2 separate regions of the Homo sapiens genome follow, and region 2 is linked to region 1. The links come from fine-mapping of genetic effects on gene expression. A gene starts in region 1. The other region holds a variant in brackets. All regions are shown on one strand. Distances are between the middles of the regions. Region 1 holds the start of PVALB (parvalbumin). Region 2 has its middle 22 kb from the start of PVALB.

Region 1 (5,368 bases):
GTGTCTGGCGTATGCTGGAAAGTGGGGTCACAGTGGTGATCTTCGGAAGGCACTGGAAAAAATAAGGAGGTCACGGGCTCCGAGAGAGACCACACAGTGTGATGGGCCGTGGAGGAGGGCACTCAGAAGCTGTATCTGCCCACCTGCGGTGAGGGGAGGAGAGGGGAGGCTTCCTGGTGAAGGTGATACCTGGAGGACAGGGGGAAGTCAGCCTCTGTGAGTGTGTGTGTGTGTGTGTGTGTGTGTGTGTGTGTGTGCATAAGTGTGCATGCATGTTGGATGTAAGTGGGTAGAACGTGAAGATTCTAGACAGAAGGTACCCTTGTGAGATGGTTTAGGGGAGAGACAGGATGGGTGGGGAAGTCCCTACTTGAAAGGCCTCTCCCTACACCCACCCCCCGCTTCTCTTTTTGACAAAACTCAAGGCTTTCTTGGCCAGAAAGTGACATAAGGCAACCTGAGTCAGTAGACATGGCCGGGTGGCTGAGGGAATTATGGTGGGAGATGCTTTTGCAGATGGAGGCATGCATTTTCCTAGCCACAGCCTTCTCCTTCTCTGCTTTTCTCCAAGGACCCCTGGACTCTCAGAGGTGGTTCTGCATCCCTGGCTTGCCTAGAAATTGCACCAGCCACACTAGTACCAGAGGGCTGGGGGCTGCAGGAAGGTGGAAAGTGTCTTTTAGACAAATGAAAATCAATGAAATACTCAAGTGAATGCTTTCTGCCCTGCCTATGGTGTTAGGCAGCAAGAAAACTGCCTCTTCATTTGCATTAAATTATTAAGTAGCAACATTCCATTAGCAATATTAAGTGGCTATCATTTAACCTAGTTAGTTGCACTTTCAGCTGAGGGTTTTACTCTTCCGAAGCAATAGCACCAGGAAGCCTTCTCCCCTGGTGCCCTGGGTCGGAGCCCTGCCTTCACGCACGGTTACTTTCTGTGAAGCAGGCAGAGTGAAAGGCAGGTCTGATGGACACTTGGAAGCTAGAGTCCCAGCCCCCACTCCCTCTCGTGCAGCCGTGGGCTGGGCAGCCCCTGCAGGCCTCCGCTTACCCCAGCTCATCCTCCTCGATGAAGCCACTTTTGTCCTTGTCCAGCATGTGAAACACCTTCTTCACATCATCCGCACTCTTTTTCTTCAGGCCGACCATTTGGAAGAACTTTTTGTGGTCGAAGGAGTCGGTAGCTGTGGGGGGAAGAGCAGGGTCAAACAAGGACCAGAAAGGCTGGTAGGGAAGCCTGGGAGAATGGGGGGCATCAAGGCATTTGTTGATGGATTCCCACATGCCAGTCATGGGGAATGAGAGGTACCCACCTCCATTGGAGGGCTGAGGGAGCCCGGGCAAGGGAGGATAACCTGTCCAAGGTCACAAGGCTGGGAGTGGAAGAGGTGTGCTCAAACCCAGACCTCCCTGGCTCTCAAGCCCGCCCCCACGCCCCACCTCCACTGCACCCATTGCTGATGATGGGAGCAGCACCTAAGAACCAAAGGCTTTTGTTCTTCTGAGAACCTTGTGCCCAGGAAGACTTTTGAGTGCCAGCTGGTTGGGAGTGGGCTGGGGAATTGAAGGGGGCATGAACATGGTCCTGGGGTTAGGGGGAGGAGGGTTGACCTTCTTTCTTGGCCACAGACTTTGTTGCCAGAAAATTGACATAGAAAGGACAGGTTTCCCTCAAGGTCATACAGTGGGAGGAGGAGGGGCAAACCCGGAAGTCCTGGCTCTGCGCAGAAATCCACTTCGGAGGCAGTGGGAAGGGGGTGTTAGGAGGCTCCCGAGAAACACCCAGTTAAGTTTCTTCCCACATGGGCTTGAGGTGAAGGGAGAGGGTTATCCCAGGACCCTGGGAGGGTGGCTTCCCAGAGAGGTTCTTGTGCCCAGGGGAGGGGGTGCAAAGCAGAAAGGAAATGGGGGTCCTTTTCTACCTGCAATTTTCTGTATCTTGGGGTCCTGTTTTAGAACACCTGGGGAAGGGTACAATGTTAGATCATGTATTTTGTGTGTGTGTGTGTGTGTGTGTGTGTGTAGGGAATGGCTGTTGAAGTCATGTTCTCTTCCCCTCAGCACAGGGCTAGAGACAAGGAAAGTTGCCCTGTCCACCTCCGACACTAGGCTGGGCAACCCAGTTCTAATACCCCTTCTGCCCAGCTAGGTGACCTTGGGCAAATGTCTTGTCCTCTCCAAGACAGTTCCCTGATTTCCCCATCTGGAGGACAGGGGAGGAGGAAGGCGGGCAGCTTAGCGCTGAAGTCCCGGGCAGCTGGGAGAGGTGAGACTGCCAGTTCCCCTCCCCTGCCCGCCTAAGGAGGCTGGAGGTTTGAGGCACTGAGGATGCCCCGTGCGGGCTTAGGCAGAGCTGTGCGCCGGCTCCAGAAGGTCACCTCGCCCGCAGGTCCGTTGCTGAATCTCAGTAAAGGAACTAGGACAGTCAGGGGGCCAACAAAGGCTACCGCCTGGCGGGAAAAGTCCTGTCCAGAATGAGGGTCCAGGAAAGGGGTCTCTTGGAGAGGAGGATGCCCCCTGCAGTCCCCTCTAAGTGCCTTAAAGAGGACGTCCAGAGAGCTCGTACAAGGACCCTGGAGGTCTCTCCTCCGACCCTGGTCTTCGCCCTTGGTCCCGGACCCTGAGTCCTCCCAGCCACCGGGCCTTCAGCACCCTCAAGTTTCTGTAACTTAGGCGGGGCGCCCTCTTCCCCGCCCGCTCCCCGCGCCAAGCCTCGCCCGGACAGAGTTTGGGAACTGCCAAGGACGCCCCCGCCCCGACCTCGCCGGCGCCCAGCGGGAAGTGTGGGCAGAAGCGCGCTGGGGAGGATCCGCCGGCTGCGGGGCCGGCGGAGTGCAGGGGCGCGGGCGGTGGACGAGGGGAGAGGGATGGGGAGGGGAGCGCGCTTGCTCACCGCTAAAGGCTCCCACCGCCTTCTTGATGTCCTCAGCGTTCAGCAAGTCTGTCATCGACATCCTGCAACTGTTTGAGCGGGCAGAGCAAGTGCGAAAAGATTAAAAAGTGCTTTTCTCATCATTTCTGCTCATATGACCAGCGCTGCAGTGCTGCGCGCCGGGCGCACGCCCGCCGGGCCTGGCATGGCGCCAGGGGCCCGGACTCTGAGCGCAGCGGGAGCGGCTCAGTCCAGCCGCGCCGCTGAGCAGCGCCGGCCGCCGGCAAGAAGGCGCGCGGACCTGCTACCACTCCTGCACCGCCAGGCCAGGGGTCCGCGGGATCCCAGGGGCTGCGGCCAGGGCACGAGGGAAGGGGCCACCTCTGGGATTTAGGGGGCACTGGCGTCACCAGCTGGGTCTGGAAAGTCCACCTGCCGTCAAGGACACGCAGGAGGTGCGCCGTCTCAGATCTGGGAACCTTGGCGGATGTCCTGCCGCGTGGGGGAAGATCCTGAACCTTCAGCGGCCAGCCTGCACCTCAGGACCTCCTAGGCCCTGCTCCCTTTCTCTCTCCACTCCTACCTCAGCCTCTGCTCTGGTCTGTCCTGGATGCAAATTTATGCTGCAAAATCTGAGCGCTGAGGTCCTGAAACCTGACCCACCCGACGCAGGGAGGAGGTGGCAGGGACAGGGACAGGGACAGGCAGGAGCTGCTGGGGCCCACTTCGGGTGCCCCATCCCACATCTGGCCAGGGATGCATATTCTAAAACCTGATTTGATGTTTTACTTTTATTTTTTATTTTTTTGCTGGCTTGATTTTTCGAAGAACACTTCTCAGATCTCTACTAACTACTTGCTTTCCTGGTCTCCTGGGTCCTGGCATCATGGGTCCAGACTCCCCCTACTCCTATAAACCTTTTTTGGGCAGAGTAGGGTGGGAGAGTCCGCTTGGAATTGCTATGCTCCCTCCCAGAAAGCCCCATATGTGTTTGGAAGAAGGGTAGCACCTTCAGACCACACTTTCTAGACAACCTAAGCAGGTGTAGGGGTCTGAACTTCACCTCTGGAAAAATGTCACGGTGCCTATCTGTATGCAGCCAGAGACCCGTTGTGTTCTTCCCCATGGTTCCCAAGGTTTCAAGCTGCAACCAGCTGCTTCTAGAGTGTGTGAGCGCTGGACAGGGAGTCAGGAGGCCTGGGTTCTAGATCCTGGGCTGCACTAAGTCCCAGTGTGACCTTGGGTTGTGACCTTCTCTGGGCTTCTGTCTCCTTCTGATGTGTTGATGACGTCAGTGGTCCCATGTAGTGGGACCTGGGGACTGCAACTTAAGGTATTGGCAGGTAGGCAGGGCCTTGGGCTGTGGTGGCCCTGGGTGGTGGGGACCAGGGAGAGCAGCTGTCCAGCTGCCCAGTAACTCAAGTTCCCTGACATCGCTGTCAACATTGTCTCCTGCAGCTCAGCCCTGGATGGCTGCCCTTCCTGGAAACCTTAGGATACCTCTGCTGGCTCCAGCTGCCCCCTCCCTGTGAGTCAGCTCCTTCAAGCCACAGCCCGCCAGATGGCTTCCAAGGCACCAAGGATGCAGCTCCTGACCTGATGCCTCTCAGCTCCAGGACTTCCCAGGACCCCTCAGCTGCCCTGGACCCTGCTGCTACTGCCGTCACCTCTGCACCTTGTCCCCAGCTGGGCTGCTGACTCAGATATGCCAGGCTCCTATGCTATCATTTCAACTCCCAGGCTCAGCTCACTCCAGGAGCCTAGTTGGAGAATGGATTTCCCCAGCTGAAGGACGCTTCAGCTATACCAGTGGAGAAACGGAGGCACAGAGTCCGTGAATGGTCTAAGGACACATGGTAAAGCAATAGCAGAGCAGGGTACACCCCTGGACTCACTCGTGTGGAGTTCAGTGACTCTCTGGGTGATCCTCCCTGGTGCCTGGGACCCAGCTCTATCAGGTCCCATACATCTCAGCCACACACTGGCTCCTGGTGAGCCCCTAAGCAGCTACCCTGTGGCAAAGGCTGCAGCCTCAACAGGGGCCCACTCTTCTTCCATCTCCTTCCTCCATCTCTCCCTGCTGCTGAGTTCTCCTATCAACTTGACACCCCCTCCGGGACTGAGCCCTCCCAGCCAGAGCATCAATGTCATTAGGTCAGCCCATCAGCCCTGGGTAGTCCTCCTCTGCCCTCTGGGTCCTCTCTGATGGCATCACCAGAGTCCACAGATGTCTGACTCCAGCCCTCTCGTTCTAAGGCTGGGGAATCTGAGGCCCAGCCACGGGGGGCGGTGGGTGGGGGGAGTTTGCCCCAGGCCACACCAGGAGTCTGGGTGGAGAAGCAGGAATGCATGCTCTCAGCCCTACATTCCACAGCTGCCCTGCCTCCAGCACCCCCACCGCACCCCCCTCCCCGGGTCACTACGGACAGGGGAGATGTAGCTCTCCCTTCCAGCTGGCTCATCCTGCTGCATCCCTCTATCCTCCAACCTCGG
Region 2 (5,368 bases), 22 kb after region 1:
GACCGTTACAGATGTTTGATGAATAGAGCATTCCATGGCCAAATACATTCAAGAAATGCACTGTGGATCACCCCTGTAATCCCAGCCCTTTGGGACGCTGAAGTGGGCAGATTATCTGAGGTCAGGAGTTCAAGACCAGCCTGGTCAACATGGTGAAACCCCATCTGTACTAAAAATACAAAAATTAGCTGGGCATGGTGGCATGAGCCTGTAATCCCAGCTACTCGGGAGGCTGAGGCAGGAGAATCGCTTGTACCCAGGAGGTGGAGGTTGCAGTGAGCCGAGATTGTGCCACTGCACTCTAGCCTGGGTGACCGGGCGAGACTCTGTCTCAAAAAAAAAAAAAAAAAAAAAGAAATACACAATGGAAAAATAAAAGGCAAACAAGATTCTTTCATTGAGCCTTCTCTCCAAGGTGGGAAGAAGAGGCCTGTAACGTCCTATTGTCCTATAGCTCCTGGACCCTTTCAGCTGGAGCATCCCCCGTGACAACTGGGGAACTCCTGTTGCCAGATGCAGGATGGTGGACGTGAGAGAGGCAGCTGGAGCCAGGCAGAGTTTCTCCACCCTGTGTCTTCATCTTAGCCTTTCTGCCCTCTTTCTTCCTTAGAGTTATCTGGCTGTCTGCTCATCTGGTCATAAACCGTTTTGTTCATATTAGGCCATGAGAAATGTGCAGTTCTTGGGTGGGGGGAGATGAGGAGGGAGGCTGGGGATTTTGCTTTTGAAGAATGCAAGGAAAGGACAAAGTTGAATCTAGTGATCTCACTTTCTTTCTCTTTTGTCACCATCAAAGCTGTGATTTGCCACTTAGCCCCCTCGAAACAGTTTCGTGGTTTGCTGGAGTTACTTCTGAGCAGATTTATTTATGATCAGAAGGAATATTTTATACCAGGAGGAAATTAATTCTGCTCAGCCTTCCTGCACATTCCTTTGACATGACAGGCTCCTCTTTTGAGGGCTGTTTTAACCTCTAGCTTCTCCCTTTGATATATTCAGGAGGCCCCAAAAATGCTGAGCCATCATCCTCACTCCTGATGGCCTTGCCATCATTCTGAGAACTAAAAAAGAATTAAATTGCAGTGGAAATGGTCACAGAATGCTCTTTTCTCTTTGGAAAGCTAATGTTAATTTGGAGTGAGATTTATGTAGGAAGCTTAAGGAATCTGTTAAAAGAAACATTGAGTTGATTTTCTAATTGACCACCATGTTGCATTTACATGTGTGACATCTGCAGATGCTCCAATAGTACGACTACACACATAAAGCTTTAGTGATTTGGTGATTGCCAAAAAGGCAGTATTTTTTCTGATTGGCATAATTTCTACCTCCAATTTACTGGAACACTGGGCATGACTGAGACGCCTTTTTAGTGATGTCTGCTGTTCTGCATGTTCAATAAACATAAAATTGAGAGGCTTGGCCATGGTTGTGTATGTGCAGCATCTGTGATCCAAGTGGAATTTAATGGTGGAATTGGGGCTTAACAATGGAATCCTGGGAGTGATATTTGGGCCTCAGGGCCCTTACTCTGCAGAAATGAGTGATGGGGCCTGTATTAGTCCATTTTCACACTGCTGATAAAGACATACCTGAGACTGGACAATTTACAAAAGAAAGAGGTTTATTGGACTCACAGTTCCACATGGCTGGGAGCCCTCAGAATCATGTCAGAAGGTGAAAGGCACATCTCATATGGAGGCAGACAAGAGAAGAGGACTTGTGCAGGGAAACTCCCCTTTACAAAACCATCAGATCTCGTGAGACTTATTCACTATCATGAGAATAGCAGGGGAAAGATGCGACCCCATGATTCAATTATCTCTCACTGGTCTCTCACACAACACATGGGAATGATGGGAGCTGCAATTCAAGATGAGATTTGGATGGGGACACAGCCAAACCATATCAGAGCCTATTCATATGGAGCCGACTCTGTGTGTGTGTGGTGTGTGTGTGTGGGGGGGGGGGGTGGTGTGTGTGTGTGTGTGTGTGGGTGGTGTATGTCTGTGTGTTTGTATGTGCGTGTGGGCAGTGTGTGGGGGCAGTGTGTGTGTGTGTGTCTGTGTATGTGTGTGTGTGTGGTGTATGTATGTGTATGTGTGTGTGTGATGTGTGTGTGGGGGGGTGGTGTGTGTGTATGTGTGTGTCTGTGTGTGTGTGGTGTGTGTGTGTCTGTGTGTGTGTGTGTGAGTAAGGTTGTCAAGTTAGCAACTGGTCAGGCTCCTCCTGGGCTGGTCCCTGCCTGTCTTCAACACCACCTGGGTGGTCCCTGCCTGTCTTCAACACCACCTAGGTGGTCCCTGCCTGTCTTCAACACCACCTGGGTGGCGTGTGTGTCTCACGGCTGTTATGCTGCCTGAGCCTGTGTGTGACTGGAGCAGGAGCTGGCATTTCTCCAGCCCCTGTTGTCCGCCAGGTGTTTTGTGATGCTTTCTAATTGTTTCTCCTGGGAGCCTCCTCGCAAGCTGGTGCTGGGCTGCACTTTTGGCCAGCCTCGGTGTGCTGGCCAGTTCAACTCAGGAGCCTTCAGCACTGAGGGCCAGCCCCAGTCTGCGGTGTCTGCCCAGGACGGCCAGTCCCTGCCAATCCGGCAGGTCCTCAGAGGCCAGGCTGAGCAGCTGGGGCCTTGCAGCAGGACACAGGGTCACAGCTGGACCCAAGCAGAGAGCCTGCTGGGCCTGAGTGTCCAGGTGTGAGGGAAGGGCTTCCTCCCTCCAGAGAACAGGGATGCAGGTTCCAGCCAGGTAGACCTTCCTGCTTTGTGAGTGTGTCCAGAGCAGGGAGAGTTTCACCCACAAACCCAATATGTGACAGGAGCAGCATAGGGCATACCCACTCTGCTCACTCAAAGGATCCCCAGGAGCTGCTCTGGGGTGCCTGAATTCTCACCATCACAGGCTGGAGTGCAGTGGTGCTATCTCGGCTCATTGCAACCTCCGCCTCCCAGGTTCAAGCTATTCTCCTGCCTCAGCCTCCTGAGTAGCTGGGACTACAGGCATGCACCACCATGCCCTGCTATTTTTTTTCTTTCTTTTTTTTTTTTTTTTTGGTAGAGACGGGGTTTCATCACGTTGGCCA[G/C]GCTGGTCTCAAACTCCTGACCTCAGGGGATCCGCCTGCCTCGGCCTCTCAAAGTGCTAGGATTACAGGCATGAGCCACTGCGCCCGGCCCATCAGTTCTTTTTCACCATCAATCCACGTCTGACCTTTCCTGTGCCTAAGCTGTCATAGAGGGTAAATGCAAACCAAACACACTTCAGATGGAAAACACCTCACCCTTCTCCCAATTCTCAAACCTTGACTCACTTCCCATAGCACATGGAGGAGAATGCTAGCATCTTCCCACAACTCGCTCCACCTCTCCTCCCACCCAGCCCTTCCTCCTTCACTGCTAGTTGCCCTGCTGGTTCTAGAACATGCCTTGGAACCTTCTCCCCCAGATACCTACATGGCTGTGTCTAGGACCTCATTCCAGTCTCTACACAAATGTCACCTCATCAGAGGCCTTCCCCGGCCACCATGTCCGAAGAGACACCCAGCCCTACCCTCACTTCTCTCTCTATCTGCTTCCCTTGCTCCGAGGCTCTCTTGCTGCTCAACTGTGGATTATACATTCATTTGTTCCTCATTTCTCTCTGTCACGAGAAAGAAAACCTCAGGTGTTTCCCCACTGCCACAACAGTGCCTGTCAATAATTGAGCCCTCAGTAAATACCTGTAGAATGAAAGGAAGAATCTTTTCAATGGTGGAAGTAACTCAATACACCCATGGTCCTCCAGTGGCGGGACCCTAGTGCTTCTGAGGGAAGGAAGATGCTGCTGTGGCCAGATTCCAGGAGGGAAGGGAGAGCATGACCCCCAGCCCTCAGGACAGATGGGGCGTGGCTGCTCCCACCATGGCTCACTGAAGTGCATCTGATACACCGTGTTTGCCACTCCAAAGTTTAATTTAGCTGATGTCTTGGCTGTGAGCAACAGCTGGTAAATTTAGTTGGGGGATTAAGAAACGTATAAGATGCATAGCTCCTTAAAAGGAGCTGGATGTCAGGGGAAAACGAAAGCCAGGTGCATCCTGAATTTGGCTGTGAAAGGCGGGGCAGCCACCTTCTTGGAGCAGGCCAAGGGGCTGTGTTTGCTGAATCTTCTGAGGGGCGGCATCTCCACATGGAGGTGGCGGAGGGCGAGCCTGGGGACACATCCAGTGGCTGCCATGTCACCTAGCCACCCAGGAAATTCCTTCAACCTGCTGGCAAGGATAGGGACAGCTCTGAAGACATGAGTCTGCCCAGAAACCATAAACAAATAGATTGACAAACATTACTGTAGCAAATTAAAACTTGTGTGAGAGTTAAAAAAAAATGCCATGGACCAAGTTCAAAGCAAACAACAAAATGGCCAAATAATACTTTCAGACAAGTGCTAGAAAAAAGACCAATGCTGTTGATTTACAAATAGCTCATAATCAATAAGAAAAAGATGAACAGTCCAATAGAAAGGAGGGTCCTAAGGCACAGACAGGAGGCCAATAATACAAATGCAAAATACAAAAGGCCAATAAATGTATGAAAATATACTCAGCCTCCTCTGCCATCAGAGAAATACAAACCAAAATCAGAGACTTTTTTAACTTATCAGATGGTCAAAAATGTTTAAGTACAGTTGTATTCAGTGATGGCAATGAATTAAGAAAATGTAAATTTCTATTTTAGGAGGGAAATTTTGAGATTTCCATCCAAATTAAAAATGCACATGTGGCTGGGCATGGTGGCTCACGCCTGTAATCCGAGCACTTTGGGAGGCCAAGGTGGGTGGATCCCTTGAGGTCAGGAGTTCAAGACCAGCCTGGCCAACATGGCGAAACCCCATCTGTACTAAAAATTCAAAAATTAGCCGGGCATAGTAGCAGGTGCCTGTAATCCCAGCTACTTGGGAGGCTGAGGCAGGAGAATTGCTTGAACCTGGGAGGCCGAGGTTGCAGTGAGCTAACACCACTGCACCCACAGTCCAGCCTAGGTGAAAGAGCAAGACTCCATCTAAAAAAAAAAAAACAAAAGAAAAAGCTGCACATGCCCTTTGTTCCAGCAATTCCACCACTAGGAGGTAAGCCTCCAAATATTCTTTTATTTTTAATGTATTATATGACTTTATTATATGAATAAATGTATGAATAGTCTCCCAAATGAATGTTCATTTCAAAATACAAGCACACCTCCTTTGATTGGGTTCTGCTTTGTTGCACTTTGCAGATATTGGATTTTTCACAAATTGAAGTTTTGTGGCAACCTTGCACCCAGGAAGTCTATCGGTGCCATTTTTCCAAGAACGTGTGCTCACTTCATGTCTCCGTGCCACATTTTAGTAATTCTTGC

Evidence for each region. PIP is the estimated chance that this variant, and not a neighbour inherited with it, causes the effect.
Region 2: its variant is the best candidate, but not a certain one, in a credible set for the expression of PVALB in lung (TOPMed, PIP 0.85).

The regions. Positions count from the first base shown.
Region 1 is chr22:36,814,049-36,819,416 of GRCh38, forward strand. PVALB (parvalbumin) reads right to left here and starts at 2,987. Exons shown (of 4, transcript NM_001315532.2): 1 at 2,897-2,987; 2 at 1,055-1,187. The coding sequence starts at 2,957.
Region 2 is chr22:36,836,238-36,841,605 of GRCh38, forward strand. No RefSeq gene overlaps it. Among named protein-coding and RNA genes, the nearest start is that of PVALB, 22 kb to the left of the region's middle. The variant G/C (reference allele first, on the strand shown) is at 3,082.